4 separate regions of the Homo sapiens genome follow, and regions 1, 2 and 3 are each reported to be linked to region 4. Evidence: microRNA targets listed by miRTarBase, many of them from high-throughput screens and not tested one by one. Region 4 holds a microRNA gene; each other region holds the end of a gene's coding sequence.

Region 1 (7,292 bases), not on the chromosome of region 4:
ATTTTCCATTACAAGAAACTAGGGCTGCTTGGAGAAATGGCCAGTTCCAGAGCTAGGGCAAGCAAAGTACGAAATGTGTCTAGAACATCTTGTGATGACAGAAGGCAAGGATGTGTTCAGAGAATGTTGAGAACATGTCAGAGGGTAATAGAAGCCAGCTGAAATGGGCTCCCATTGATCAGATCAGGGACAATGTGAGCATCAGAACAGATAATGCTAGTAACAGGTTACAACCCACTGAATAATATGGGTAACCAGGAGTTCACAAATGTGAATACATGAATAAATTAAATGCTTGATGAGGAACAGAATATATACATAGTTTCAAAATTCCTCTCTAAAAATACTTATTAAAAAGTGGCCAGGCCTGGTGGCTTACACCTGTAATCCTAGCACTGTGGGAGGCTGAGGCAGACAGATCACTTGAGGTCAGGAGTTGGAGACCAGCCTGGCCAACATAGTGAAACCCCATCTCTACTAAAAATACAAAAATTAGCCGGGCATGGTGGTGGATGCCTGTAATCCCAGCTACCCAGGAGGCTGAGGCAGGAGAATCGCTTGAACCTGGGAGGCGGAGGTTGCAGTGAGCTGAGATCACGCCAATGCACTCCAGTTTGGCAACAGAGTGAGACTCCATCGCAAAAAAAAAAAAAAAGACATAGAACAATTGGCAAACTTGAATGAGGGCTTAAGATTCAATGGTAGTGATGTATCAGTGTTAATTTTCTCACTTTGATGGTGGCATTGTGGTTATTAGGAGAATCTTCTGTGGAGGATTCTCTCCACTAATGCATTGAGGGGTGGTGCATCAGCTTATTCTTAAATCATTCAGAAAAATAGTTATTTGTACTGTACTTCTAACTTTTCCGTAAGTTTGTTATTTCTGTACGTTTCAAATTTTAATTCAGAATTGTTGGCCAGGCGTGGTGGCCCACACCTGTAATCCCAGCGGTTTGGGAGGCTGAGGCAGGCGGATAGCCTGAGCTCAGGAGTTGAGTTCGAGACCACCCTGGGCAACATGGTGAAACCCGTCTCTACTAAAATACAAAAAATTAGCAGGGTGTGCTGGCGGGCACCTGTAGTCCCAGCTACTCTGGAGGCTGAGGCAGGAGAATCGTTTGAACCTGGAGGTAGAGGTTGCGGTGAGCCGAGATTGCGCCACTGCACACCAGCTTGGGCTGCAGAGTGAGATTCGGTCTCAAAAAAAAAGAAAAAAAGAATTGTGCTTGTTGAGCAGTTAGGTAGGCCATGGCAATCCCAGCACCCAAACATCTGACATTCTGGAGGGGTGGAAATGCGCTGGCTAGGTAACCGAGGGAGCTTAGCCCGAGGAGCAATTCTGCAAAGCAGCTGCAGGGGGCGCTTGCGAGAGCCCAAGAGCCAGGAGAGCCTCAGGTGGCTGCCGCTCCTACAGGAAAGCATCACAAAGGAGACTGGCTGCCTATTGGTTTCCAAGCAGGGCAGTGGAGAAACACTTGGTTAAATGTTTTGTTTAAAAAAGAATTATAGGCCGGGCGCGGTGGCTCACGCCGGTAATCCCAGCACTTTGGGAGGCTGAGGCGGGCGGATCAGCTGAGGTCAGGGGTTTGAGACAAGCCTGGCCAATATGGTGAAACTCCGTCTCTACTAAAAATACTAAAATTAGCCGGGTGTGGTGGCGGGCGCCTGTAATCCCAGCTACTCGGGAGGCTGAGGCAGGAGAATCACTTGAACCCGGGAGGCAGAGGTTGCAGTGAGCCGAGATCCCGCCATTGCACTGCAGCCTGGGCGAAGGAGCGAGACTCCGTCTCAAAATAATAATAATAATAATAATAATAATAATAATAATAATAATAATAAATAAAAATTCTGGCAGTAACCCAACTGTCCATCAGCAGATGAATTAGCAAGATGAATTAGCAATTAGCAAGTTTGGTGTATACACGTAGTGGACTATTCAGCCTTATAAAGGAAGAAATTCTGACACATGTTACAACACGGATGAACGTTGAGGACATGATTCTGAGTGAAATAAGCCTGTCCCAAAAGGACAAATCCTGTGTGATTGCAGTCATATGACGTTCCTAGAGTCAAATTCATAGAAACAAAGTGGAATCGTCAGGACCAGCGGCCAGAGAAGGAGAGGGAGAGTGAGGGTTTAGTGGGGATAGAGTTGTGGTTTTACAAGATGGAAAGAGTTCTGGAGACTGACCTGCACCACAACGTGAGTATACCTAACACTGCCGAACTGTACACTTGGAAATGGTTAGGATGGTACATTTTATGTTGACACCACAATAAAAAATTACCCTTTGATCCAGTCATCCTAGGTAAAAAATGGAATTTGATTTTGAGAAATTATCTGAGCTTAAGACAAAGCTTTGGCCACGCACAGTGGCTCACGCCTGTGATCCCAACACTTTTGAGGCTAAGGCAAGAGTGTTACTTGAGGCCAGGAGTTTGAGACCAGCCGGGGCAACATGGTAAGACCCCATCTTACAAAAAAAAAAAAAACCCCAAAAGACAAAGCTTTATACATGAAAATGTTAATTGTAGCATACTTTCTAAAAACAAAAATAGGAACATACATTCTACAAAAATATGAAGAACAGTATCTTTAACAATGAGCAAACGATGGTACCCTCATTCCAATAAATTCCTTGTAGCCATTAAAAAATACTGTTTAGGGGCTGGGTGCACTGATTCACACCTGTAATCCCAGCATTTGGGGAAGCTGAGGTGAGAAGATCGCTTGAGCTCAGGAGTACCAGATCAGCCTGGGCAACATAGTGAGATCCCTGTCTCCACAAAAAAATAAAAAACAATTAGCCAGGTGTGGTGGCACATGCCTGTAGTACTAGCTACTCAGGAGGCTAAGGTGGGGGGATCACTTGAGCCCAGGAGATCAAGACTGTAGTGAGCTGTGATCATGCCACTGCACTTGAGCCTGGGCAACAGAGTGAGACCCTGTCTCAAAAAAACAAAAAACAAAAAACAACAACAACAACAAACCCTACTGTTTGGACCTGGCTTTTGCTTCATGCAGAGTTGGTATAAACTCCGGAGAAGTGACTGTGGACTTTACCTCCAGGAACGAGGCATCTGCAGGCTGCTCAGAAGACCCTGAACAGAAATCAATGATGGAGCACCATGGGAGGCTGGTCTCCTGGGGCAGGGAATTGAATTCCAAACCAGACGTAATCTACCATTTGGTGCAGGGCAAGAAGCTAGGATGAAATGAATGAAAGATTGAGGAGAGATGAAAGAAAGATTGAGGAGGGATGGGCCCTGTTGTCTCTATAAGGAGAGGTCAGGAATTACCAAGACCTGTCAGAGATAACCCAGGAAGGACACCCAGAGGAAGTGGCACGCTGTTGTTTTCCTGCTCCAGTAGTCTGGGTTTTTAGTCACAAAGCACAGAAATTCAGCCTAGGTGATTGATTTACAAAAGACTTGTCTCCTTCAAGAGTCCTGGAGGACGAGGTTCATAGCTACGTAGCCAGAAACCTCTCATATGGCGCTGCTGCAAAACCCATAAGAGGTTTTTCAGGTCTCTGCCTGTTTGTGTCAATTGTCCGATTGCAAGTCTGGGGTGAGAATAAAGTCTGGGAGAGCCCAGGTCAGGTGCCTGCACCCCAGCTATGACAGAGGCTGGGGAGTGAGGGCTCTGCCTCCCCCCAGAACTGATAAGCTGGGTGGTTTGTCATTTATAGGACGGTAACTAATTTGTTAAACAGCAAGAAAAAAGAAAAACAGGCTGAGCATGTGGCTCACGCCTCTAACATCTACACTTTGGGAGGCTGAGTTGGGAGGATCATTTGAGCCCAGGAGTTCAAGACCAACCTGGGCAATATAGCAAAACCCCGTCTCTACAAAAAATTAGCCAGCCGCGATGGTGCGTTCTTGTGGTCCCAGCTACTTGGGAGGCTGAGGCAGGAAGATTGCTTCAGCCCAGGAGTTTAAGATTGCAGTGAGCCTCGAGACCATCCTGGCTAAAATGGTGAAACCCTGTCTCTACTAAAAATTACAAAAAATTAGCCAGGCTTGGTAGCAGGCACCTGTAGTCCCAGCTACTCGGGAGGCTGAGGCAGGAGAATGGCGTGAACCCGGGAGGTGGAGCTTGCAGTGAGCTGAGATCACACCACTGCACTCCAGCCTGGCCGACAGAGCAAGACTCCGTCTCAAAAAAAAAAAAAAGATTGCAGTGAGCCACGATAGCACCACTGCATTCCAGACTGGGTGACAGGGCAAGGCCGTCTCTCAAAGGAAAAAAGAAACAAAGATTTCCATTCTGGCAGTCCACCCCTTTTGTTTCCCCCATTATTAACTTTACTTCTCCCTCATTATTAGTTTTTACTTTATTTAAATGTGTGTATCTGCTCCCATCTAACCTAACACGACTCTCTCTCTAGCAAAAATATTTGCAATCTGCAGTCCCTTCCCCAAAGAGGGATCCACCCAAGCCTCGTATTGTTGTGTCCACCTCCAAGTTCAGGATCTTTTGGTGATAGATCTTCTCTAGTGAAAATGTCTTCAAACATAGCAAGAGGCTTTAAATACTGGGTATCCAAAAAATGATAGGGGTCCTAAAACCAGATCCAGTTACCTACCTATCATCCAAGACCTCGCTTGAGTCCTTTTGGGTGCTCCCAACATTAGTGTCGTAAAACTAAATACAGGTGATGTGAGCAGTTGTTCACTGATGATTCTAATGCTCTCTTGGAATTCATTGTTTCTCTGTTATGGTGTTTCATAGTCTTTGTGGCAAAAATAGCATTGCATCATTAAAAGTATGTTACTGTCTGGGCGTGGTGGCTGAAGCCTGTAATCCCAGCACTTTGGGAGGCCGAGGTGGGTGGATCACGAGCTCAGGAGATCGAGACCATCCTGGCTAACACGGTGAAACCCTGTCTCTACTAAAAATACAAAAAATTAGCCGGGCGTGGTGGTGGGCACCTGTAGTCCCAGCTACTCAGGAGGTTGAGGCAGGAGAATGGCGTGAACCTGGGAGGCGGAGCTGGCAGTGAGCCAAGATCGCACCATTGCACTCCAGCCTGGGCAACACAGTGAGACTCCGTCTCAAAAAAAAAAAAAAAGAAAAAAAGATATGTTACTTTGCGAGGCGCAGTGGCTCACACCTGTAATCCCAGCACTTTGGGAGGTTGAGGTGGGCAGATCACCTGAAATCAGGAGTTCGAGACCAGCCTGGCCAACATGGTGACACCCCGTCTCTACTAAAAATACAAAAAGTAGCCAGGTGTGGTTTTGCGGGTGCCTGCAGTCCCAGGTACTCGGGAGGCTGAGGCAGGAGAATCACTTGAACCCAAGAGGCGGAGGTTGCAGTGAGCTGAGATGGCGCCATTGCATTCCAGCCTGGGTGACAAGAGCGAGACTCCGTCTCAAAAATAAATAAATATTAGAAGTATGTTACTTGAAGAAAACATGCTGTTTGGAGAGATGGAGGGGCCCAGGTTCAATGAGTGGCTACGTGACCGACTAAATGAATTACGAAGTAGATGAATAAATACATGGATGTGTGTACCCGAGCCTCCCTTGGGTCCAGGACATGGTGGCATTCACACGGCCAAAGGTGGGACTGTGTCTCAGTGGGCACTCAGAAGATGGCCAACAAATGGATTTTTATCGACTGCCTTGTCTTCTTCATCTGTCTCACCACTGCAGGCAGGCAATGAGTAATGAAATGACAAGTTTAATTAGTGAATTCTGTTTTGTGGGGAGAGGACACTGAGGTTTTAAGGAAATAACCAGTTTCTCTGAGACCAGGATCATTTCATAAGCATTTATTAATCAGAGGTACATGAGCAGGCTCAGCCTAGGGGAATAATTGCCAACAAACACTTTTGGGAAGCCTGGGACCATGGCTCTGCCAGGAATCTGTGACATCTCCAGGGCATCATTTGAGTCCTGCCTTCTCAAAGTACTTGTGACAGGCAGACGTGATTGCAGCCACGAACACTATGAACTCACTGAAGTCCACCTGGGCATCTCCATTGGCGTCCAGGTCCTTGAGCAATTTATCCACGGCATCCTTGTCTTTTCCACTCTAGAGGAGAGAGAGGCTCAAGGTCAGCAGTGAGGGTGCCTGTGCAGGGCCTCAGCCTCCACCAAGCACTGCTGCTGGGCAGGAGCAGGGCACCCACATCTGCGTCACCTTTGCTGTCAGGGCCAGGGCCAGCTGTGCATAGCAGACACATGGCATTCCTGGCCTTAAGAACTTGTGAGCTGCCTTCAGCTATCTGGCATGACATGAACTAACTTGTAATGTTTTTAGAGCGAATTGGAATTGTGCTCTGCGAGAGGGAGTTTCATTTTGAGTTTTTGCCGGGGGTTGTCTTTGGATTTGTAAAGTGCTTTACAGTGATGGTTGTTCTCAGGAAATGCATCCAGTCTTTGCTCTATTTTTTGTGCACTGCTAACTTCATGGGCCTCCCATCTCGTGCTGGCACTGAACTAGCTGCTTACACAAACAGGAACTCCTCAACACCACCAGACACGGCAGAGGCATCGCCCTGTTACAGATGAAGATGATAAGGCCCAGAGGGCCCAAGGGACCTGCCCTGAAGTCACACAGGGAGCCGGGGAAAGCCAGGGTTGAGCCCCAGGTGTGGAGCGAGCATGGAGCAAGCACCCTGAGCCCTGTTCTTCCTCTCTGCTTGGGTCCCAAGCTCTCAGGTCTTCTTTGAGAAGGCCAGGCCGGCAGGGCTCTCAGAGCCTGCCCATGTGATAGCAAAGCGTTCTCACTGTGGGACCAAGCGGGACCAGGATGCAGATCTGAACAGCAGCAGCAGGGTGTGCTGATGACCCAGCCCTGGGCCAGAGAGCTGTGTGTCCAGGTGGAAAGAAACACAATTAAAATTGGTAGAAACATATCATCTGACCAAGACACAACTGTGTGCATGAAGACCTTAGTGACAGCATGGTTTGCAATAGCAAAAGTAAGGCAGGGAAGTACAAATTCAATAGCAAACAAATAGTGGTATGGCCATGTCACAATACCCTGCGGCCATTTCAAGTGATGTTTACAAAGTTTGTAGGCAGACAGTCACCTCGTATTTACAAAGCTCCGACTGTGCGGGGCGCTGGGTTGGGCACGGAGCAGATAGGGCCAGAAGGCCAGCCCAGCCCAGCCCTGCCCTCAGGCGGACATTGTTCTCTGACTCCGGCTTTGCTGGGCTTCAGCAGCCTCCGGAGGGAGGGCTGAGAAGGGCACCCAGGGCCTCCCCGAGGTGATTCTAATGTAACACATTAGCTGGACCCCCAGCTTTGCCATTGCTTCTCAAAGTGTGTTCCCA
Region 2 (7,616 bases), not on the chromosome of region 4:
AACAAAGCTGTGATTCTATGAATGAAACTTTACCAGGAAACAAAAGGTGGGAAAGAAAACAACAACAAAAGGAGTTTCTAAATATAAACAGGTGAGTTTGAACAGCCTGTTAATTAAGTCAGGAATTAAGTTACTCTATTTTAACAGAGGTCTAGGCAAAGACATAGTCAGCTGCTCTAACAAAATGACCCTTGTTCCTCTTGCAACCAGATCCAGCCACCCAGGTTCCTAACCCAGGCAGGTGCACCCTGGTACCACATATGACCTTGTTACAATCTCAGGCTCTACCATGACCTTCTTAGAAATTTAGGGCTGGAAGAGAACTTAGAAGTTATCTAACCCTTGTTACATACTTGAGGTCTTCAAGGCCAAGTCTGAGGGGCCCAGCCTACGAGCTTCATAGCATATTGTCATGAATATGCTATGAATATGCTACGAATGGGCTATTCTGAGCCCAGGATGACAGCCAGCTAAGCAGGTATTTCTGAGGAATTGGGACACGTGCAGCATCTGAACTTGAAAGCATTATGCAGCTGTTACTCTCTTACCAATCCTTTCCAGAGATATAATCTTAGTTTTATTTAAAAAAAATTTTAATGGGTAATTTTAATAATGTTATTTAACCCAATGTACCCAAAATATACTTTACATTTTTTCTTTATACTTTTATACTAACCAACCTGATGCATAATTTATATTTACCGCACATATCAATTTGCTTTAATTTTTATCTCAATAGCTTTTAGGGTCCAGTGGTTTATTGTTACATGGATGAATTATATAGTGGTGAATTCTGAGATTTTAGTGGATTCATCACCAAAGTAGTGTACATTGTACCTAATATGCAGTTTTTTATCCCAACTCCCCTCCCACCCTCCTCTTTCTGAGTCTCTAAAGTCCATTATATCACTCTGTATGCCCTTCCATACTAATCGACAACTTGAAGAATCAGGAGATGAAAGTTATTCCCCGTAGGGGAATAACTTTCAATGTAGGGGAATAACTTAGCTCCCACTATTAAGTGAGACTATATCGTTTTTGGTTTTCCACTCCTGTGTTACTTCACTTAGAATAATGGCCTCCAGCTCCATCCAAGTTGCTGCAAAAGACATTATTTTGTTCTTTTTAATGGCTAAGTAATATTCCATGGTGTATACATACCACAATTTCTTTATCCACTCATTAGTCGATGGGCACTTAAGTTGGTTCCACATCTTTGCAATTGTGAACTGCTATAAACGTACGTGTACAAGTGTGTTTTTCATATAATGACTTCTTTTCCTTTGGGCAGATACCCAGTAGTGGGATTGCTGGATCGAATGGTAGATCTACTTTTAGCTAGAGATATAATCTTGAAGTTAGAAAAGAGCTTTCCCAATCTAGTCCAGAGGTTATAAACTAATGGGCCATGGGCCCAAAGGAGCCACAGATATTTATTTGGACTCCTTAGTGTTTTACATATTTTTTAATTAGTTGCTGATACTTCAAAATCTGAAGATCTTGCACAGAAAGATCCACATTTTGCTTGTCTGGAAAAACAGAAATATCTGTCCACATTATGTCCTTAGAACAACAATCAGCTGAGGCTGAGTAGAAGCTACTTCCTTGAGACATGTGAAACTGAACCAGTCAACCAAATTTGCAAACCCTGAATAAATCCAACCAATTCATTTCACTTATGAAGAAAACAAAGTTCTGAGAAAACCGTTTGGCCTGTCCCCATTTAATGACAATATCAAAATCAGAAGCCAGATATTCTGAATTTCAGTCAGTGATCTTCAATGAGAACTGTTGCTTTTTCCCTAAAGAACCCGAAATACAGGGATATTACGTGCTTGTAGGCACTATGAGGAGGAAAAACAAAACTGAAAACTAGGTCTTCTGTCCCTGCACTCACTATGTTCTATCTCCTTACTGGGCCAGAAATTCTTATGCAAATTAATAGGGAGGTAAGACTAGCCAGGAACTCAAAGCCCAAACTTTCCAAGGCCTGTGATCCTGGAACAGCTCTTCCATGTGTCCATGAGAGAGACTGGTGCTAGGAACCAGTAAGTATAGAGGCAAATTTTTTGTGCTCCTTTCTGAGCAGCACACTTTAAAAATTCCATACAGTCTGTATCTGACATAAATTAGGGTATTGTAGCCAAGTTGTCAATTTCACCAATCCTCAAGCCACATGTCTATTCTGTGCAGGTCTATGGAACCTAATGCACAGTCTCCTGAGAGCATAAATGAAGTATCGGGCAATTGGCTATGGCCAAAGGAGACTTGTCTTTTTCCCCTGAGAGATTTGCTCTCACTGAGGCAGAAGAGACTCTTCTAGATGCACCGTTTAGACCCCAACACTTTTCCTGCTCACCGAATACACAGTGACTGTATCCTCTCAGAACCAAATAATAATGACAATAATCATTGTATGAGGTAGCTTTTAAAATGTGCTTTTTTTTCTCTTTTAACTCTCAACTCCCTTAGAAGCTGGGGCTGTTCATCTTCTCAACTTTACAAAGAGGGAACCCAGTAAACAGGATTGCCTCTATATAACAACAACAACAAAAACCTAAAGCTTGAACAGAAAAGGAACTAGTCTCTTACTCATTTAGGTACAATGAAATCCTGGATTAGGGCTTTCACAACAGGCATGAATTCGTTAAGCGCCCAGCTGAGCACTAAATCAGACTTGAGTGGAAGAACTAGGAAAGCCTTGGTGAGATCTTTCGTAATTGCTTTGTCATTAATAAGCAGGATTTTGTTACCCACATTCAATGAGCCCACGATAATAATTTAATTCCAGGCAAGTCTCTCAGAAATAGGTCTTTCAACAAGGAAAAGACCCAAATCCTAACCTAGCACTGGCCACTCAATTCAAAATCATGCAGGATTTTTTAAGTACCAGGGCTTTATGGAGAAATTACAATAGTGGTAAGAAAAATGTCAGCCTTCTCAACACGGCAACATGTATTGAATGAATCACCATCATGTATGTGATGATTACAAAGGCGATTTAGAAAGATGTGGTCAACAGTATTCATTAGCCCTTCACAAGAGCAGGTTTAACAGTTTGGTTACTTCTTCATCTTCTTACGTAAGGCTACTGGCTACTTGGCTATTGAGGCCAAAGTCTCAACAGGGGTTTCACAAGACTAAACCTGTCCTCTCCCCTGCTGTTTTTTCATTTTAAGTTAATGGTGGAGTAAGCACCCACTGAACCAATATTCCAACGAATAACAACCATAAACTCTCAAAAAAATACAAAAAATACATGAGGGTAGGAGACAATAAAAACAGGCAAGTTCTGAAAAGAGATTGAAATTTTAAAGAAGGGAATGGCACAAGGTGAGTTTCCCATTGTACAGCTTTTGGGCTGAAAGAAAACTGCAGTTTTTCTGGTCTAAGAATCAGAGCAACCACAGCTGCTGGAAAATGAGGGGGGAAATCTCAGAAGAAAGAGAGCCAAAGAAAAAGCACCACAAATTCTGTGCATAAATTCTATCCATCTCTCTGGCTAAGCCCTGAACTATGTGCAGCATAGACTCCAGCTAACTGAATTGAGATTTTCAGCTGCTGCCCAAGAGAGTTTACAGTTTGAGTCCAATAAAGTTAAATGCCTGCTAACACAAGCAATATATATATATACACACACACATACACAATATATATATATTTGTGTGTGTATATATTTGTATATATATATTTGTGTGTCTATATATACACACAAATGTAATACACAAATGTTGTATATATATATTTTTGTGTATATGTATATTTATGTGTGTATATGTATATATCACAGCACTTTTCAGAGCAATATAACAGAATCTACAACATAAACATTACAATGTTCAGGACACAATCTAAATCACTCAATATATGAGGGACCTCCCCCCAAAATCTGACCATTCTGTAAAGAGGAACAATGGAGACCAATTCTAAGATTATCCAGATGTCAAATTTACCAGAAAAGAATTTTAAAGCATAATTTAAACTCATTGAACATAGTTATGTGTTCTCTACTGAGAACACATAATTTTTTTATTTATGTGTTCTCTACTGAGAACAAATAATTTTTTTATTCACTATATAGTTATGTTCAATGTTTTGTTCGGTTATGTTCATAGTTATGTTCATCTGTTATGTTCAAGGTTCATAGTTTTATTCACTACATAGTTATGTTCAATGAAAACATGCATGTAGTGAATAAAAAAATCTCAGTAGAGAAATATAAAGAATTAGGGAGAAATTCTAGAACCAAATGATAAAATGTCAAAAATTAACTCTTCAGTTGAAGACTCCCTTTGGGAAATACTCCTTAATTTATTTCCTTCGTATCTCTGTTCTTTGGTCCTTTCACCCCTGGAACTCGGTCAATTTAGAAGGAAAAGAGACTAACTTAATTTACCTTTGGATCTTCTATAAGGGCACAAATCAGATCCACAGTTACTGATGTTCCAATGACATGTGAGATGCGAGTTGCAAAATAACTCATAATCAAAATTACCTCCGCTCAGTTGGAGATTGTTTCAAATGACTTTTATTTGTACCAAAACTAAATGGAAAATTGCTTGCTGACACTGTAGGAAGTTAATTTCTTTTTTCTTTGGGAGGCTTGACTTGAGAAAAAGAATTTAGTTAAGTTTGGTGGTGAAATTTTATATACAGTATTTTCATTTGGTGAAGATATGAAGGCCAGGACTAATAGCTCTTCTGCCTAGGATCCCTAATATTTCACACTAGGCCTGATAGTCGCTCCTACAGAGATGACATTTTTCTTTTAGAATGCAGTAACACCTACCAGGCCTCTGTAGGAGGCAGGCTACATACAATAAGGAAGTGTTTTTATGAGGAGAAAAATGATGCTCAGAGACAAAGCATCAAAGTCTTATTTTCTGAAGTGATTCTAACATGGAAGAATTTGGAAAAGATAATCCCAAGACTCAGTCCATTGTGAGTCTCCCATTGGTCCCGCTTCTCACTTGGTCACCAAGTTCTGCACACTATGAGACATATACTTCTGAAACAGCCAGCTTCCCAATCCCAAAGATACCTGGTACTCTCAAAAGCAGGGCATGATAGGCTAGGGCAGAAATTGGTTCCTGGATAAAACAGGACCCTACTCACAAAAAGCGATAATAAATACATTAAGAAAGACTACCAAACAAACCTGAAATGGTTTTAGAAATGGAGGTGATAGCTTCTCTGGGAGCAAGGAGTTATGATTATTTCACTCAATTAAAACAATGTCCAAAATATGAGAATGAAAGCTCCCAAACAGTGTTCTTAGCAATTTTGTAATGTGTACCAATGAAAATTGGTTTTCAGTATTAAAATGGACCAATGTCTCTGAGTTAAGAATTAGTTACTATATCAGAAACAGGAAAAAAAACAAAGTAAATAAGCTGAAAAACTAAAAAGCTCCTCTTTTTATCACAGTTCTTCCACATAAGGCTGATCAACATATCATCCAATGATATAAAATTCTAGAAACTTTACAAAATTCCTTTTTAAAATTTATTTTTTGTTATCAAAGAGAATGTCCAGAAACATTGAGTACTAAAGAATTTGTTCATGGCATTGTTTTACAAAATTTTCTAATGGAGAGTGAATATTTTATTTTCTGATGTATTCTTCACTTATTAATGATGAGGTCAATGAACTGATGCAATTATTTAAAAAAAAAAAAACAGACAACCTTATAAAGGAAAAAACAAAAACAAAAACAAAAAAAAACCAAACGTCCATTCTCATTCTGAATCTGTTGACTGGAGTGAATTCAGTGGTCACAATACCACCATCAAATAAGAATCAACTTCCTCAGAGTAAGGAGCTGTTCCGATCTTCTCAATAGTTCACACAGGTCTCTCAGATATAGGCACCATGTTTTAAGTCTCACACAAAATGTCTGTGTCACTTAAATTACACAATATGGCAGTGTTTGTCTTATGGGGACATACTGAAAGGGGCAAAGTAGAAAACAACCTGTTTGCATGTTATATGTGAGTACATTATTGTACTGTGCATGGGTATGAGGGCATTGCAGCCCTTGTTAAAGAGGAATTCCACCAATTGAAGCCTATGTCAGTTCCCAGCTGCTCTTGGTGCTGAGAGTATCTACTCATATAACCTTATTTTGTTAGATCAGAGCCCTCTTCATCTACAGTTTGGCTGAAATGGTTTGAACTGAGTTTGGTCGAACTGAGTTTGGTCGTTTATCTCTTCCATCTGAGCTTTATTTCTCAGCCTCAGGATATGTGGGGTACTTGACCGTTTCTATCTTCTCTCGAACTTTGTAGGAGGGATATAGGCCCGTCCTTCCCAATTTCCTGTTGACACCTTTAGAATAGCCATCCCAATGATTTCCAGCCACACCAATGATATCTCCAGGTTCCATGGGAATTTCATCTGCAGTTCGGGGTTGGTGAGCATAAATGGCAATTTGATTGTGGGCATTCTGGCCCCCAAAATAGTAGATGTCATCTAAAGAATGGAAGTTTGCAGAGGCATCAGGATGTAGTGTTTGCATAATTTCATAAGCAACTCGACAGACCTTGGGAAAGAATTTAAAAGAAATTGTTAGTATATAAACACTCTCCTTCACAGCAATCTAAAAGCCCTTGGCCAAAAGGATGGGCTCTAGGAGTAAGAGGTTGAAAAGTAGTGGATTCTAGTCACAAGCTTTCAGTCCATTTGTTCTCAGAAGATGGTACAAGTCATTCTTCATCTCTGTGTCTGGATCCTTTTTCAAATAAAGAAGAAAAACTCACGAAAGATTATTACAATTAAAATCTCTCTATCTCTATATAGTACAAAAGAATTTAAGAATATGAATTAGTTAATTTTAACAAACATTTATTAAGAGCTACATACACAGTGGTCCAAGCTAGGCACTCATGATACCAAAATGAGTAAGACATAGTTTGTGCCCTTAAAGAATTTGAAGTTTAGGATTAGGATAAAAAAACTTAACACAAATAAATGCTGATGGTCCCTTTCCTTCATACACTGTTAATCAATCACACATTCTCATCTGCTAATTTATAACTTGGTGTCAGAACTGTTTTCTTTTTTTTTAAATTATACTTTAAGTTTTAGGGTACACGTGCACAACGTGCAGGTTAGTTACATATGTATACATGTGCCATGTTGGTGTGCTGCACCCAGTAACTCGTCATTTAACATTAGGTATATCTCCAAATGCTATCCCTCCCCGCTCCCAGAACTGTTTTCAAGAGAGATTCATGTAATTACTGACAATCAACAAGCACTGGCAAGTGAGCTAAAACACATCGGCAATTTCTGTTCTAAAAAGTTTTAAGTGTGCTGTGTAGAGAGTGGCATGCTTGGATGACATAAACTGGGCAAGCCTTTGAGGAAATGCATCACCCTGATTACTATAGTTTTAAGGCTACTTAAAAGGTCCCTATGTCCAAAGAATACCCTCTCTGCTCACTGGATAGCAGGTGAAATTCCACAATCTGAGCTTCAATCCTTGAGGTTAATGCTTAGTAATAAAGTTAAACTAAACTATCACCCAATTTAAGCAATTTATACATTGTGAAAAGAGAACAATGCAACTCAGATGAAATTTTCCTAAATCTCCAGTTATGGTAATCTTAGTTAAT
Region 3 (7,616 bases), not on the chromosome of region 4:
TATTTGGATTGTGCCTTTAAAGACTCAAATCATGACTGATTTTTGTCAGTTCTTTAATGATCTATGTCTCGGGTATGGAGAACATTCAGTCAGCCAGACGCTGAAAGCCACAAGTACTAGTTTTTAACCCTAACTACGTGCAGTTATCCTTAAGTTAACAGATTCAGTTGGCTTTGAGTCTGACTGCTTTAACAGTTGTTTGCTTGTTGTGACTAATGAGGTCTCGAGTGTGGGTGGGAACGGGGACAGGAGCCGAGGGACCTTCGTACCCAACTGTTGCTCTCGTTTATTTTCCTGGCAGACCCCAGCAGCGACCGCCACGGCCCCGCCACCGGTCCACAAGGTGTTCCGGAAGTGAGGGCCGGGCCCGACCGCCGGCAGCATCCGTCATTGGAGTCCAGTTACCCACCCGATCTTCACAAATCATCACCACATGGGGAAAAGCGGGCACACGCAAGGGATCCGAAAGGCAGCAGAGAGTATAGCAGACAACCCAATGAACACCACACCTGGAATGGGACTTCGAGGAAACCCGACAGCGGGGCATGCCGACCCAAGGACCGGGCGCCGGAGGGACGGAGGGACGCGCAGGCCGAGCGCGCGGCAGCCGCCAACGGCCCCAAGAGGCGGTCCCCAGAGAAGCGGAGGGAGGGCACCCGCAGCGCCGACAACACTTTGGAGAGGAGGGAGAAGCACGAGAAGAGACGAGACGTCTCTCCGGAGCGGAGGCGAGAGCGGTCACCCACCCGCAGGAGAGACGGCTCCCCCAGCCGGCGGAGACGGTCTCTGGAGAGACTCCTGGAGCAGAGGAGGTCCCCCGAGCGCAGGAGAGGGGGCTCGCCCGAGCGCAGGGCCAAGTCCACCGACCGGAGGCGCGCACGCTCCCCCGAGCGCAGGAGAGAGCGGTCCCTGGACAAAAGGAACAGAGAGGACAGAGCCAGCCACCGAGAAAGGGAAGAGGCGAATCTGAAACAGGATGCCGGCAGAAGTTCCAGACATCCCCCGGAGCAGAGAAGGCGACCTTACAAAGAATGTAGCACCGACCTCAGTATCTGAGACGCTGAGTCACATTCCAACCTTTACCGTGTCAAAGGTTCTAAGAGGAAAGTCACAAACCTGAAATTATTTAGTTTCTTACCTAATGAAGCATCTGACACCTGATGATCCTATGAATAACAACAAACATTTTATGCATTTGAAATCTTATAAGAAAAAATATATATGAAAAGTATTGTGCCTGATGTATCATATTAAAGAAAGTATTTTTAAATGCATACTTTTTTGGAAATTATTTGCCAAATGCTGGCCCAAAGGGATATAAATTTTGTTTCTACGTAACCTGTAGAATCGTCAAGAATTGTTCCCGTTTTGGGGCAATCTTTTTCTCTCCTGGTTAAATGGGGCTGTTGATCATTTTCTCTACGTAAGGGAATTTATTGATTAAGTTTAATTAATTTGATATAGACTGTCATGTAGTGATGTAGTGCTATACTGTAGTCGGAAGTTTTTCTTAAAAGCAAAGAGCAAAAATGCAAAGTTTTATTTGTAAAAGCTGAGGACCCTTGGGGATGGATTAGGTTTGCCGATGATCCTAAAAGTAAGCAAACTGTATGACAAGACTACTATTGCAAATGAAGGATATTTATAGCTAAACTGCGCAGCACAAAGAAGTTTTATATTGTGAGTTATAGTTGGTTCAGAAAACAGTTTGTACTCTCCCTGGCCCAGGAAGGCACACAGACAAAAATGTCGGCCACTTTTACTCAAATACAGCCCAAGCACAGACAGTCAGGTTCGTGATCATCACCAACATCTGATAAAATCTCATTGAAGGCAATGCCATCACAGCTTTGCTCAATTACTACGAGGAAGAGACAACAAGCATCTTTCGTGTTGTCTCGTCTGATTGGAGGCTGAATAGTAGATGGAATGGGGGGACAGTGTGCCTGGTGTGAGGAAGACGTAAGATCCCCAATTTGGAAAGCATGCCCCCCTCCCTTTTAGTAGAAGCCCATGGTTGCCCTTTGCCAAACTGGGGAGGAGGCAATGAGCCTTGGTGGAAGGAACCTCTCTGTTGATATTTAAAGAAGTGAGGGCTGTGGGTATTCATTGTTAGAAATGCCAATTTCACTTTGAAACCATAGTCCAAGTCTCTAGGTTGGTAGAAGGGAAAGGAAGGAAGTGGTCCCAGTGATTCTAGGTCTGGTTGGGAAACTTCTGCCTCATGACTCTGTCCTTTGAGTCCTTTGGACAGCAGCACAAAACATAACAATTTTTATTTTTAAACAGACCCATTCTTTTTGATCCCACAGGAGCTGTGGTTGGGTCGGCCGTAGCCCCGGGATGTGGTTTAAGTGGATTACTGCCTAGCTGAGCCAAAATGTTTGCTTGTACCTGTTGGACCACTACAGCAAACCGCTGCTTACAGTGCATTGTGTATTTCTGTAGTACTGTTTTGCATTTTCCATAGAGACAGAAAACTTTGCAAGTCAATCACTGTTGTTCCCATGGTACTGTAAGAAAAAAAAAAAGGAAAAAGAAAAAAAAAAAGAAAACCAGCCAATCATTGCGTGTACAGAGCTAAAAATTGTAATTAATAGAGCCTGTTGGGAAAAAAAAGAAAACAACTGTTGCCTTTTTTTCTTGTATAAAAGAGAATTTATGACAAAATTTAGCTGTGAGGAATGTGATACGTGTTTATATTTCTGAATATGGAACAAATTGATTCATGGGGATATATTTTAATGTAAACTAAATCAGGTATGTAAAGTTGTTTTAAAATGGGAGACTATATAAGTAATTCTCTAAAGCTTTAGTTGGTTTGAATATCATCATTTCCTCCATGGTGAGCCTGCTTGTGAATTATTAAGCACTTGTTTGCATTCTCTGTTCTTCACTCATTTATTTCTTGCAGTGTGCTATGGACTTAATGCTCTTTCTGTATTGATGAAAAGCAGTATGTGGGCCAATCTTTTTATAAAACACTATGCATATATAAATATTACATTGTTCATAGCTTTATTTGACTTATGGGTTTATACATAACATTAGAATGAGTAGCTGTAGTTGTGTGGACATTTATAAAACAAGTTCCTTTCCTGGAACAGACACAATATACATTCTGTAGCTAAAAAGGAGGGAAAAGTCTGTGAATGCTATTTTTATTATTAAAGTTTTCCATACAAAGCATACATTGAGCTGTAGTAAGGCTGAGGAAGAGTACAACTGAATAATGATGTTCTTTTTCATCAAGTTCCTAAGAGCTGACTTGGAGATTTTATTCCCAGGGCTCCACTGCTAGGATTCTTCTCACTAGTTCTAACAAAATCTGTGATGTTAAATGACTGATGCTCTCAATTGTGATCCAGAGTTTTAAATAAATGAAATCAAGGTGGATTTTGGGAATATATCCTGAAGTTAACATCTTGATGTCCTTCTTGTTGTAAGATGATATTTGGCAATTTAAAATCTATGTGCTACCCACCTGGGCTTGTCTCAATCCGTGGACTTTTTGGTGTGGCAGTTTCACCTGAATTCCACACATCAGATTTGTTTGGAAATATTGTACTGTACAGGGACTATGCATTATGCAGAAAGATATAGTTTTCTTTGAACTGCTGTAACCTTAAATTGGAAACTGATTCTTGTGAGCCTACTTTCCTTAATCCCGCCGCCCCCCTCCCCCACTTAATGTAAATGTCTTGATGAGAGATAATGGATGAGTATTTTGTATGATGAAATCAAACGATTTAGGAATTTGTCTCCCTCCGTTACACAGTTGATGCCTGAAAGAATGTTGGGGGGGAGGACTCAACACCCTAATTGTATTTTTTAAGTTTCTTTTGTGAAAGATTTTTTAATGCATTTTTACTGTAAAAATACATGGAAATGTATGCATTCCACAACCACTATTGCTTCTGGATTGATATCTTCCTTGTCTCTATGTTGTCTCAAATGTATCAGGGTCAAGTAATCAATTGAGGGCCCCTGACTCCAACTTGATGAAATGCCGTTGTGTTGAAAGAGCAGGATCTATGCCATTGCAATAGCATAGTGCCTTGCTACTCAAAGTGTGGTCTGTGGACCAGCTGCCTCATCATCACTGAGGAGCTTGTTAGAAATGCAGATTCTCAGCCCTACTCCAGACCTACTGAGTCAGAATGTACAGTTAATAAGATCCTCAGCTATGCCTTATGCACATGAAAGTTTAAACAGCACAGCACAGTATAGCACAGAACCCTGATAATAAAACAAATCCTGCCAAGCTAAGAGCTTCATCACTTCTGGTGTGATTCTTGGGCACATTCCTTAACCTCCTCTGAAGCCTCCATTTCCTCATCTGTAAAAGGACATACTTCACAGAGCTAAGAATAGATACACATCTTTGGCAATCAGAAGAGTCCTCAGTAAATGACACGAACTTTTTTTTTTTTTTTAATTGAGGAAGATTTCTGCGTGGCAATGAGTACTCTACTCTTTTTGTTGTCCTGGTTTATTTTCCAATCAAAATAAATGAAAAAAACTTTTTTTTTTTTTTTTTTTTTTTTTGAGACAGGGTCTCACTCTGACGCCCAGGCTGGAGTGCAGTGGCATGATCGCAGCTCACTGCAGCCTCAACCTCCCAGGTTCAAGTGATCCTCCCTGCTCAACCTCCCGAGTAACTGGGACTGGAGGGGCATGCCACCATGCCCAAATAATTTTTGGTATTTTTATAGAAATGGGGTTTTGCCCTTTTGCCCAGGCCGGTCACAAATGCCTGGGCTCAAGCAATCTGCCCAACTCAGCCTCCCAAAGTGCTGGGATTACAGGCATGAGCCACCGTGCCTGTAAGAAAAAATTATTTTCTCACTCTATTAAAATGGGGAAGAAGGCCTTTTAATTATGAATAGTATAGTACATACTATTCAACAAAATACTACACTTAACCATTGCTGAGGAATATGAAACCAAAATGCTGTGCTGTGAAAACTGAGACAAAGTCATCTCTAAGTCTAACTTCAGGAGGTAGATGTGTGTGGAATTAGATATACTCCCAAGTCACACTAGATACGAAAGTTAACCATTCTCAAGTGACCTAACGTTCGTGGGGGTGGATCAGGTAGTGTTGAATAACTTTCCAGTTTCCTTCACACAGTTTTTGGTTGTTCCTTTTTATGACTTAGTGTTTGGGGTTTTCCTCCAGAACCTAATCTCCTGGGCGTTCAAAAGGCATTTTGTTGAATAGTAGGCCTTCCTCCAACCCATCTCCTTTGCTGTATTTTGCTTTGTCACCAGGATGGTAATTATGAACTCTGCTCACTTCCCTAGTATCTCCTTTATAAAAGATGGCATCTCAAAGTGGTCCCTGGCTTAACCAACAGTTGAAGCTGTTTGTAAAGCCCTTATGTCATGCAAGTTCTTTGCCTGCCATAAACAGCCACACCAAATGTGCAGAGACTCAATTATGCCGTCAGGATTTTTCCAGCTGGGGGCAATCCGAGACCACCTTTGGTGGCCTGCATTAATCATAAAAGGAAAAGCCCTTTCAAGTTCCTCCAAGCGATTTCTCCTTTGAGGCAACACCATCAGCATCGTGGATGTTTAGCACAGTGAGATCCAAGTGCTTTGGCAATACAAATCATTAGAAGCTTATGTGAAGGGAAATGCCCTCTCCAACACAATGATTTAGGGTATTTTTTGCAGGAGTGGATCTTCTGTGAAAATTGTTTGACTACTCCCTCCCACCCCTAAGTGATGTCTTTATGCATTGTGGTCATTGTCAGAGGCAAGAGGAGTGTGGCTTTACTTCATTAGTGTAGTTATTAGGTGTCCAATGGATCCAAAGCACAAGATCTCTTTGCAAGTACATGGATTTAAGCAAAGTAGTGATAACTGTTGAATTATACAGTAAATACTCAAGTATTGCATGCGACTGCTACCCTTGACTGCATCACCTTTCCACCTAACTGAAAAGTCTTTATTGTCATGTCTCTGGAGGGAATAAAGGCATGGTCTTCACAGCTGAGAGCTCTAAACACCACTCCATTAAGTGCTGTACTTTATATTTATCCCTCAGAGAATAAATTCTCTTTGGTCTCATAAGATTGTGGAATTGAAGGGAAAATATCTCAGAAAGGCTGTTCATTCCTGCATGTGTAATAGGCAAGGCTTGCTACTCTATTTCTCATTTCCTCAACACATTTATTGAAGATCAGCTCTGTGCCAGGTACATGGTGGGGGCTAGAAATGCCTGGTTCCTGGTCTCAAGTGCTCGTAGTTGGTGGGGAGAAGACAAATGCTTGCAAACTGCATACCAAGCAGAAGCACGGGGTCCTCTGATAGCAACTAATAGGAAATTTAGCCAGATTGAAGAAGGTTATAATTCAAGTGAGGCCAGAAGGAAGAGGAAGCTAATCAGTGAAAGAAGGAACAAAGTGCAGGCTGAGCAAAGGCCCAAGTGCAAGGGAGTGTGGTCTAGAAGGGAAGGGTTGCATTGTGAAGGGAATAAGGGTTGTGCCAGGCTGGACTTGTTCCAGATTGTAGACTTCAGAATAACAGAAGACCACTGAAGAGTTTTAACAGGGCCTCCGGCGAGCTGTGTGTGTGTTCGGGGAGGGAGAGGTGACCAGCTCAGGTTTAAGTTTGAGAAAGATGGCCTCACAGCACCATGGGAGAGCGGACTTGGAGAGAGGTGGAAAGAATCCAGTTAGCCACCGGGGCTGTCCAGGGCAGCAATTGTTACCACGAAAACCCCTCCTGTACCATGCAGTTCTCAAAGTTCAGAAGTCCCCAAGCCCATGTTTACCTTCCTCTTACTAAAAGAGTTCATTTTATTTCCAACCTAAATCCTTCAGCTTCTCTTCCCTATACCTTAATTAATACGTGCAGAACACTTTGTACCCAATTTCTTCTGTTAGGTAAGGTCCATCATTTACTATTCTACTGGGTTTTCTACAGGTTTACAAATTCCCACCTTACTAGCCTTTTTTTTTTTTCCAGATCCTTGTTTCAAACCTAATCTTATTTTCATTTTTTTTAAGTTGACCACATCTTTCTCAAGTTACAGAAGCCTGTCTATGTATTATCCAGTCTTTGCTAGCCATTCCCCATGTTTGAGTGTGAAGAAAGAAACCACTCAATCCTATGATACCCCATTTTTAAAAGCAGTTTTTATTTACAAAACGAATTCATATTTACAATACGAATGCATATTTACAAATGCATATTTACAATAAAAGATTCAAGCATTTCAGGAAAGTATAAAAAGTGACATTCTTCCTTACACCTGTCAATCCCAATCCACAGAAATAACTGTTATTAGCAGCTTGATTCGTGACATTTCTAGTCTTTCTGTGTGTGTGTGTGTGTGTGTGTGTGTGTGTATAACTGTATGGGTATATGTGTACGTATATATAGTTTTTATGAAAAAATGGGCCATTAGCCCTTACTATGTTATGAACTGTTCCTTTACCTTACATATTGTGGGTATTTCTTCAAGTTAGGAGTATGTATGTATATATAGATATACACACACACATAAAAATAAAGCCTTTTATACGTCACTCATTCCCATTCTTTGTCCTTCTCTCTCCCCCACTCTTGGATTAGCTTCCTTACGGTTCTCTCTGCCTTTTCCC
Region 4 (7,616 bases):
TGGAAAGACTGTCCTCAGAGTCCAGGCCTCCTCTCTCTGACTGGAAAGACTGTCCTCAGAGTCCAGGCCTCTTCCCTCTGACTGGAAAGATTGCCCTCAGAGTCCAGGCCTCTTCTCTCTGACTGGAAAGATTGTCCTCAGAGTCCAGGCCTCCTCTCTCTGACTGGAAAGACTGTCCTCAGAGTCCAGGCCTCTTCTCTCTGACTGGAAAGACTGCCCTCAGAGTCCAGGCCTCTTCTCTCTGACTGAAAAGATTGTCCTCAGAGTCCAGGACTCCTCCCTCTGACTGGAAAGATTGCCCTCAGAGTCCAGGCCTCTTCTCTCTGACTGAAAAGACTGTCCTCAGAGTCCAGGCCTCTTCTTTCTGACTGGAAAGACTGTCCTGAGAGTCCAGGCCTCCTCTCTCTGACTGGAAAGCCTGTCCTCAGAGTCCAGACCTCCTCTCTCTGACTGGAAAGATTGTCCTGAGAGTCCAGGCCTCCTCTCTCTGACTGGAAAGACTGTCCTCAGGGTCCAGGCCTCCTCTCTGTGACTGGAAAGACTGTCCTCAGAGTCCAGGCCTCCTCTCTCTGACTAGAGACTGTCCTCAGAGTTCAGGCCTCTTCTCTCTGATTGGAAAGATTGCCCTCAGAGTCCAGGCCTCTTCTCTCTGACTGGAAAGATTGTCCTCAGCGTCCAGGCCTCTTCTCTCTGACTGGAAAGATTGTCCTCAGAGTCCAGGCCTCCTCTCTCTGACTGGAAAGGCTGTCCCCAAGTGATTCTCCCCCCTTGGGCTCCCAAAGTGTTGGGATTACGCATGTGAGCCACCATCCAATTTTTTATTTTTATTTTTAGAGACAGGGTCTTGCTCTGTCACCCAGGCTAGAGCGCAGTGGCTCACTGCAGCCTCAATTCCTGGGCTCAAGTGATCCTCCCACCCTGGCCTCTTGAGTAGCTGGGACTACAGGCATGCACTACCACCACCACCTCCTCTGTCTAACCAGAAAAAATTGTCCCTGAAGTCCAGGCCTTCTCTCTCTGACTGGAAAGATTGTCCACAGAGTTCAGACCTCCTCTCTCTAACTAGAAAGATTGTCCCTAAAGTCAGAGCCTCCTCTTTCTGACTAGGAGGATTTTCTTCTCCATCTGAGGGTCCTGACTCAGGAGGAAGAGGAAGGGCCCCCTCCTGTCCTTCTGGTGCCTGGGGCAGCAGCCTTCATGGGTAGATGCCTTCACCCAGGTGGCTGTCTAGATTCAGAAAATGGAATTCTGTTTGGAAGTCTGGGACAGGGGCTGCTGAGCAGTGGAAAGTGCGTGTGGTTTGGCTCAGATGTCCCCGGGATCTTACTCTCTCTCTCTTCTGAACCATCTTTTCCTCTGGGACCGTTTCCGAGCCTGAGGATCGGGCTGGCTGGAAGACTTGGCAGTTGCACTTCACTGTGTTAGTGTTTGCCTGACACCCCTGCCATGCCCACCCCTGAAAACACACGGCCCTCCCTCTGGTGGCAGTGCTGGGGCTGAAGCCAGGAGCCACCATGAGGCCAGATTCCTGCCTCTTGCACCCCATCTCTGGATGGGCCAGCCCATCCCACACGCTTCTGCTGTGCTTACAAAGTTCAAGTGTGCTGTGGTCACTGTTTCCATGTGGCTATCTGTTTTCAGGATTCTGGGGTCCCCTGCCCCGTCCAGTCTTGGCTGGGAGTTGAGGGAGGGAGGAAGCTTTGAGTTTTTGCTTGTCTCTGCGCTGACCTGGGGACACAGCAACTGCAGGATGTACCTTTGGCATCATCCCAGAGCTGCCAAGTCTGAACTTCTAGGTTTGAACCTGGGAATCTGCATTTTACCAAAAGCTCCCCAGCCGATGCTTACACAGTGAAGCCGAGACCTGCCGCTCTAGCTGATGAGCATGCCCTGCTGGAATTTACCTTTGGGTTAAAATCTGACATATTAGGAGCTTTTTTTTTTTTTTTAAGACAGAGTCTCGCTCTGTCACCCAGGCTGGAGTGCACTGGTGTGATCTGCAACCTCTGCCTCCCAGGTTCAAGCAACTCTCCTGCCTCAGCCTCCCAGGTACCTGGAACTACAGGCACATGCCACCATGCCTAGCTAATTTTTGTATTTTTTTTTTTTTTTTGGTAGTAGAGATGGCGTTTCACCATGTTGACCAGGCTGATCTCGAACTCCTGATCTCAAGTGATCCACCCACCTCAGCCTCCCAAAGTACTGGGATTACAGGTGTGAGCCACCACGCCCGGCCTAAGAGCATTTTTCCCACACTAAAAGATAACACAGTCCAGCTGGCTTGCTTTTTAACCAGAGCATTACAGGGTCACCTGTTTGGAGGAGGAGGACTGAGGTCAGAGCAGGCTCCTGTCAACTCCAACGGGACATTTCACAGTGGCCACAACAGGCTGACCTCTGTGTCCTGTGTCCTGCTGACTGTGTGTGGAGGCCTCAGAGGGGCTCTTTCCCCCTTGCACAGAGAGAGACAGCACTGGCTCATGAGCCTGCTTTTTTCTGCACTACCTTACCTGGAACTCAAGTTTCTGGGACTTCCCATGCTGGGGTAGAGGTGACTTTGATCCTCCTGAAAACAGTCCTTCATGCCCCCACACCCACATGGAAGAGGAACTGTTCCGTGGTGGTCCGTATCCAAAGTCACTAGATCTTGGCCTGGCATAGTGGTTCATGCCTATAACCCCAGTATTTTGGGAGGCCGAGGCGGAAGGATCACTTGAGCCCAGGAGTTTGAGACCATCCTGGGCAACATGGCAAGAACCCATCTCTATAAAAACAACAACAACAAAACAACAAGAAGTCAGTAGATCTTAAAGCACTAGATCTTAAACCCTGTGATGGGCAATTTCCTTGTCAATTTAGCGAGGCTGTGATACCCATGATTCAACCAAACGCTTGCCTGGGTGCTACTGTGAGGTGCGTTGTACATGTGGTCAGCACTGATGATCACTGGCTGTAAGTCAAAGGTTCTCCTCTGCGAGGTGGGTGGGCCTCATGCAATCGGTTGAAAGGCCTCAAGAGCAGAACCGAGGTTTCCCTGAAGAAGAAGAAATCCTGCCTGGGGACTGCAGTGTCAGCTCCTCCGGGGAGCTTCCGGCCTGCTGGCCTGCCCTCTGGATTTCAGACTTGCCTAGCCAGCCCCCACAATCACGTAAGCCGATTCCTTGAAATAAACTTAATCTATATCTCCTTCTGGTTCTGATTCTCTGGCAGAACTCTGATCCTCTCCCTAAACGGTGCCCGGGACGGGGGAGGAGTTGGCGCTACTTCATTGCTTCCCTTTCACGCAGACATGCTGACTTTTCAACCACTGTCCTTTTCGAATTTTTTCTCTTCCAGGGAAGTGCTGACTCTTTTTCTCCTTGTCAATTAGTCCTTTTGGAATCTGTTACTGGTCTCAGCCTTCTCCTCCATCCTCTCTCTTTCATTATTTTTATTTTCATTTTGTAGAGACAGTTGCTGAAGGTGGTGGTCTGGCTATGTTAACCAGGCTGGTTTTGAACTTCTCGCCTCAAGTGATCCTCCTGTCTTGGCCTCCAAAATTGCTGGGATTACAGGTGTGAGCCATCACCCAATTTTTATTTTTAGAGACGGGGTCTCACCCTGTCACCCAGACTGGCGCAATCACAGCTCCCTGCAGCCTCAACCCCTGGGCTCAAGCGATCCTCCTGCCCTGGCCTCTCCAGTAGCTAGGACTACAGGCACGCATGTCACCATGCCTGGCTAATTTTTAAAATTTTTTTGTAGAGATGGAGTCTTGCTAGTTGCCTGGGCTGGTCTTGAACTCCTGGCCTGAAGCGATCCTCCCACCTCGGCCTCCTGCATCCTTTCTTTCCTCCCCACATTTCCTTCTTATCAACAGGTGCTGGGGAGAGGCAGGACAGGCCTGTCCCCCGAGTCCCCTCCGGATGCCGTGGACCGGCCAGCTGTGAGTGTTTCTTTGGCAGTGTCTTAGCTGGTTGTTGTGAGCAATAGTAAGGAAGCAATCAGCAAGTATACTGCCCTAGAAGTGCTGCACGTTGTGGGGCCCAAGAGGGAAGATGAAGCGAGAGATGCCCAGACCAGTGGGAGACGCCAGGACTTCGGAAGCTCTTCTGCGCCACGGTGGGTGGTGAGGGCGGCTGGGAAAGTGAGCTCCAGGGCCCCAGGAGCAGCCTGCTCGTGGGTGCGGAAGGAAAAAGGCACAGGGGCTTGGTGTGGGCGGCTTTTGGCTGGGAGAAGTTTGCACGTAGGGAGAATAGTAGCCAGTGTTTGCAGAGCACTTACTATGCAGGAAGGCCTGTCCTAAGTATTGTAAGTGTATTACATCATGTACAAGTGTCTGTGATTAACCCCGTCTTGCAGAGAAGGAAACAAAAGTACAAACAGAAAATGTAACTAAGCATGCAATTAATAAAAAGGGACCAGGTTTTGAACGCGAGCAATCTGGCTCAAGAATCTGCGCCCAACCACCGGCTCCTGTTCTTAGAGATGAACGTGGAGTCCTGGAGACTGCTCAACATTGTGACTTGACTGTGAGCGTACGCGCTCCCTGTCCCCAGGAGACAGATTTCCAGTGCAATCATAGAAAGTGCCTGTGTGGGCTTCGGGAGATGTGTCTGCCTTGGGGAGAATTTTCCTTTTCAGCTAGAGCCAGGCCCAGGATGTTGACGTCAGTGAGACGCTGGTGACGTTCTCTGCTCCAGTGGCTGATGAGAAAAGTTCCTCCAAGCCAGCTCAGTTGAGAAGAATTAAGTTCTCTGGGTCCCACTGGCTTCACCTACAGATGCCAACTTTGAGGCCAGTGAACTGTGAGGCCAGCTGGGCTGATTGCCATGGCAACAGGAATTGGACCAAAGTCACCGGAGGATGGAGAGGGAAGACACAGTGGTGGCTTCCCCAGGTCTTGGACCACAAGGCACAGCCGTGGCCTCCAGGAACCCTGAGATAACCCGTTAGTGGGTCCTGCACTCCAACAGAGCTCATGCAATCAGCCTCTGGTCCTCACCCTCCTCCCATTGGTGTCGTTGTGCTCTCTAACATTGACATTGAGCAGTGAGTGCTCCAGATCTTGTTCCACTGATTTTTTCCACTGTTCTCCAGTCTAGCACTTTCTGAAATTCATCCAAGCCTAAGAGGTGACGCCAAACGTAAGTGTCTTACACCTCGGACCCCATGGACTAAGACAAGCCTCTGGGGTCCATGTGGCACCAAGGATGGGGCCTTCTAGTACCTTTCACACAGGCCAGGGACAGCACCTGCTGCGACCCCCACCCCCAGCCTCTGCTGCTTCTCCCGTTGCCCTTCCAGCCACTGCCCTGGGCACCTCCCCTGCTCCCGCCTCCCTGCCTGGGCCCATCTTTCTTTGCACCTCACCAATTGCGGGGCTTCCTAGTGCTGGAGGGGAAGGGAGCCTGCTTCCATTCTCACCACTCTGAAAGAAGACCCTGCAGAGAGGTTTTCTGGAATTTGGAGCCTAACCTTGGCCTTGACACAGTCCAGATGAGAAGGCCGTCCCCCAGTTAAGCCAGCCCTCCCTCCCTCTCAATGCTGGAGAGGAAACCAGGCAGCTGGTTGCTTCAGCAAACCCCCTCCCTATGGGAATTGTCCTTTTCTTCCTCAAATAGACTGGAGTGCAGAGGACTTGCTTCAGAGAGAGCCCCTTTGTAACGCACATTGCACGGGCCGTGCCCCATGCCCACTCTGCCACAAACTCCCCTCAGCTGCCCAGCCCCGTGGAGCCAGGCGTGGGCTGAAGTGGGGCCAATGAAATGCCTGGAATGCCAGCCGCAGTGACAGGCCAGCACTCAGATGCCTCTCGGGAGTTCTGACCGAAGCAGCACTGAGGACTGCTTCAGAGCAGAAGTCTACGCCATTTTCCCCAGTTCTAGGCAGAAGTAAAGAATGTCTCTACCTTCTCCCAACCAGCAATTGATTCAGAGTCCTGAGCTTTTAAATTAAAGGGACCCCTCTGTTGCTTTATGCAGTAGCCAGCTTATTCATTTGAGTTCAGGTGAAATCATTTTCAAGTAACCTCTTCCTATCCAGCTTTACTTTTAGTTATGCTGACATAAAAACAATAAAAATTGTCCTCCTCAGAGTTCACCTGTAAAAGTTCCTGGATAATTAGTAAGGAAACAGAAAGAGCAGATAGTTGTTGCTTCAGATAAAAGTGATGTCTGGGTTGGGCACGGTGGCGCATGCCTGTAATCCCAGCACTTGGGGAGGCCCAGGTGGATGGATCCCTTGAGCTCAGGAGTTTCAGACCAGCCTGGGCAACATCTCTACAAAAAATACAAAAATTAGCCAGGCATAGTGGCAGGACTGTAGTCCCAGCTACTCAGGAGGCTGAGGTCAGGGGATGGCTTGAGCCCAGGAGGCACAGATTGAAGTGAGCTGAGATTGCGCCACTGTATTCCAGCCTAGGTGACAGAGCCAGACCCTGTCTCAAATTAAAAAAAACTCTTTGTGGTCATTTAATTTACTTCTGCATTCTTTTTTTTTTTTTTTTGAAATGGGCAGTGGTACCATCTCAGCTCACTGCAACCTCTGCCTTGGGGGTTCAAGTGATTCTCCTGCCTCAGCCTCCCGAGTAGCTGGGATTACAGGCACCCGCCACCACGCCCAGCTAATTTTTGTATTTTTAGTAGAGACGGGGCTTTGCCATGTTGACCAGGCTGGACTCAAACTCCTGACCTCAGGTGATCCGCCCACCTCGGCCTCCCAAAGCACTGGGATTACAGGAATGAGCCACTGCACTCGGCCTACTTCTGCATTCCTTAGAGTACATCCTAGCTAGGATATATTCACTTGTCTTTAGAGCTAACAGCAGAAGAAAGGTACCTAGATGCTTATCTAGCTCTTTATCTTTCTAGAAATTCTAGAAGATGAGAGGGGCAGTGGTGGCTCCAAGGGAGTGATTTTAGGATGGACTGGGACAGAGAGGGGCTGCTTACACATACTCACACAGAGGCCATTAATTTAGGGAGTTCAAGGTCCAGGAGGTTGACGGCATCTAGGCCTGTGGCAGAGTGCACTCCTGCTTTGGGGAATGTATGGGCAGCTTCTTGCCTGTAGTTGGAGGGTTAGAGAGAGGGATCAATAATTTCATGGTTGGACTTGAGTTTGGAGCGAGTGGAGTTAGATACAAATTCTATGTTTTTGGAGAAAGTATTTGATCTTCTTGGCTGTGAGGCAAAGCGAGGTTTAAAAATATTTTTCACTTAAAAATATATATATATGCATGTATATTTAATACTGTCTATGGATTGTGCCAATATCTATTTCATGGTTTTGATATTGTGTAGTTATACAAGGAGTTACCACTGAACGAAACTGGGGGAAGGGTACACAGAATCTCTGTACTTTTTTTGTTGTTGTTGCAATTTCCTGTAAATCTATGATTATTTTAAAATAAAAAAGTTAAAGCATACGTATTTACATTTGATTAAATGCAGTGTGATATCCTGGGTTGGATTTTGGAACAAAACAAGGCATGAGTGAAAAAACTGGTAAAATCCAAAAAAGCCTTTAGTTAAAAGTAATACCAGTGTTAATTTCTTAGTTTTGACAAATGTGCCATGGCTGTGTAAGATGCAAATGTTAGAGGAAACTGGGCGAAGAATTTGAGGGAACTCTCT

Evidence for each region. Region 4 holds the annotated microRNA hsa-miR-34a-5p (UGGCAGUGUCUUAGCUGGUUGU, at 3,939-3,960, shown strand). A microRNA usually pairs through its seed, bases 2 to 8, with sites in the 3' UTR of a target mRNA and lowers its output. Matches are read on the target gene's strand: a 7mer-m8 pairs with bases 2 to 8, a 7mer-A1 pairs with bases 2 to 7 and ends in A, and an 8mer does both.
Region 1: miRTarBase lists S100P as a target of hsa-miR-34a-5p. The part of its 3' UTR that is shown has no 7-base or 8-base seed match.
Region 2: the mRNA of FUT8 is a reported target of hsa-miR-34a-5p. Seed matches in the 3' UTR shown: 8mer at 5,921-5,928.
Region 3: miRTarBase lists MAGI1 as a target of hsa-miR-34a-5p. The part of its 3' UTR that is shown has no 7-base or 8-base seed match.

Annotation. Positions count from the first base shown.
Region 1 is chr4:6,695,644-6,702,935 of GRCh38, reverse strand. It overlaps S100P (S100 calcium binding protein P), which reads right to left. Exons shown (of 2, transcript NM_005980.3): 2 at 5,766-6,043. The coding sequence ends at 5,894. Among named protein-coding and RNA genes, the nearest start is that of S100P, 5.4 kb to the right of the region's middle. RefSeq lists an enhancer at 6,090-6,852.
Region 2 is chr14:65,741,018-65,748,633 of GRCh38, reverse strand. It overlaps FUT8 (fucosyltransferase 8), which reads right to left. Exons shown (of 11, transcript NM_001371533.1): 11 at 4,513-6,541. The coding sequence ends at 6,224. Among named protein-coding and RNA genes, the nearest start is that of MIR625, 270 kb to the right of the region's middle. RefSeq lists an enhancer at 2,369-3,330.
Region 3 is chr3:65,349,818-65,357,433 of GRCh38, reverse strand. It overlaps MAGI1 (membrane associated guanylate kinase, WW and PDZ domain containing 1), which reads left to right. Exons shown (of 23, transcript NM_001033057.2): 23 at 302-3,908. The coding sequence ends at 1,056. Among named protein-coding and RNA genes, the nearest start is that of LINC02040, 180 kb to the right of the region's middle.
Region 4 is chr1:9,148,079-9,155,694 of GRCh38, reverse strand. MIR34A (microRNA 34a) reads left to right here and starts at 3,918; the gene lies at 3,918-4,027. It overlaps MIR34AHG (MIR34A host gene), which reads left to right. Exons shown (of 2, transcript NR_132742.1): 2 at 3,860-7,616. RefSeq lists a silencer at 3,873-4,109.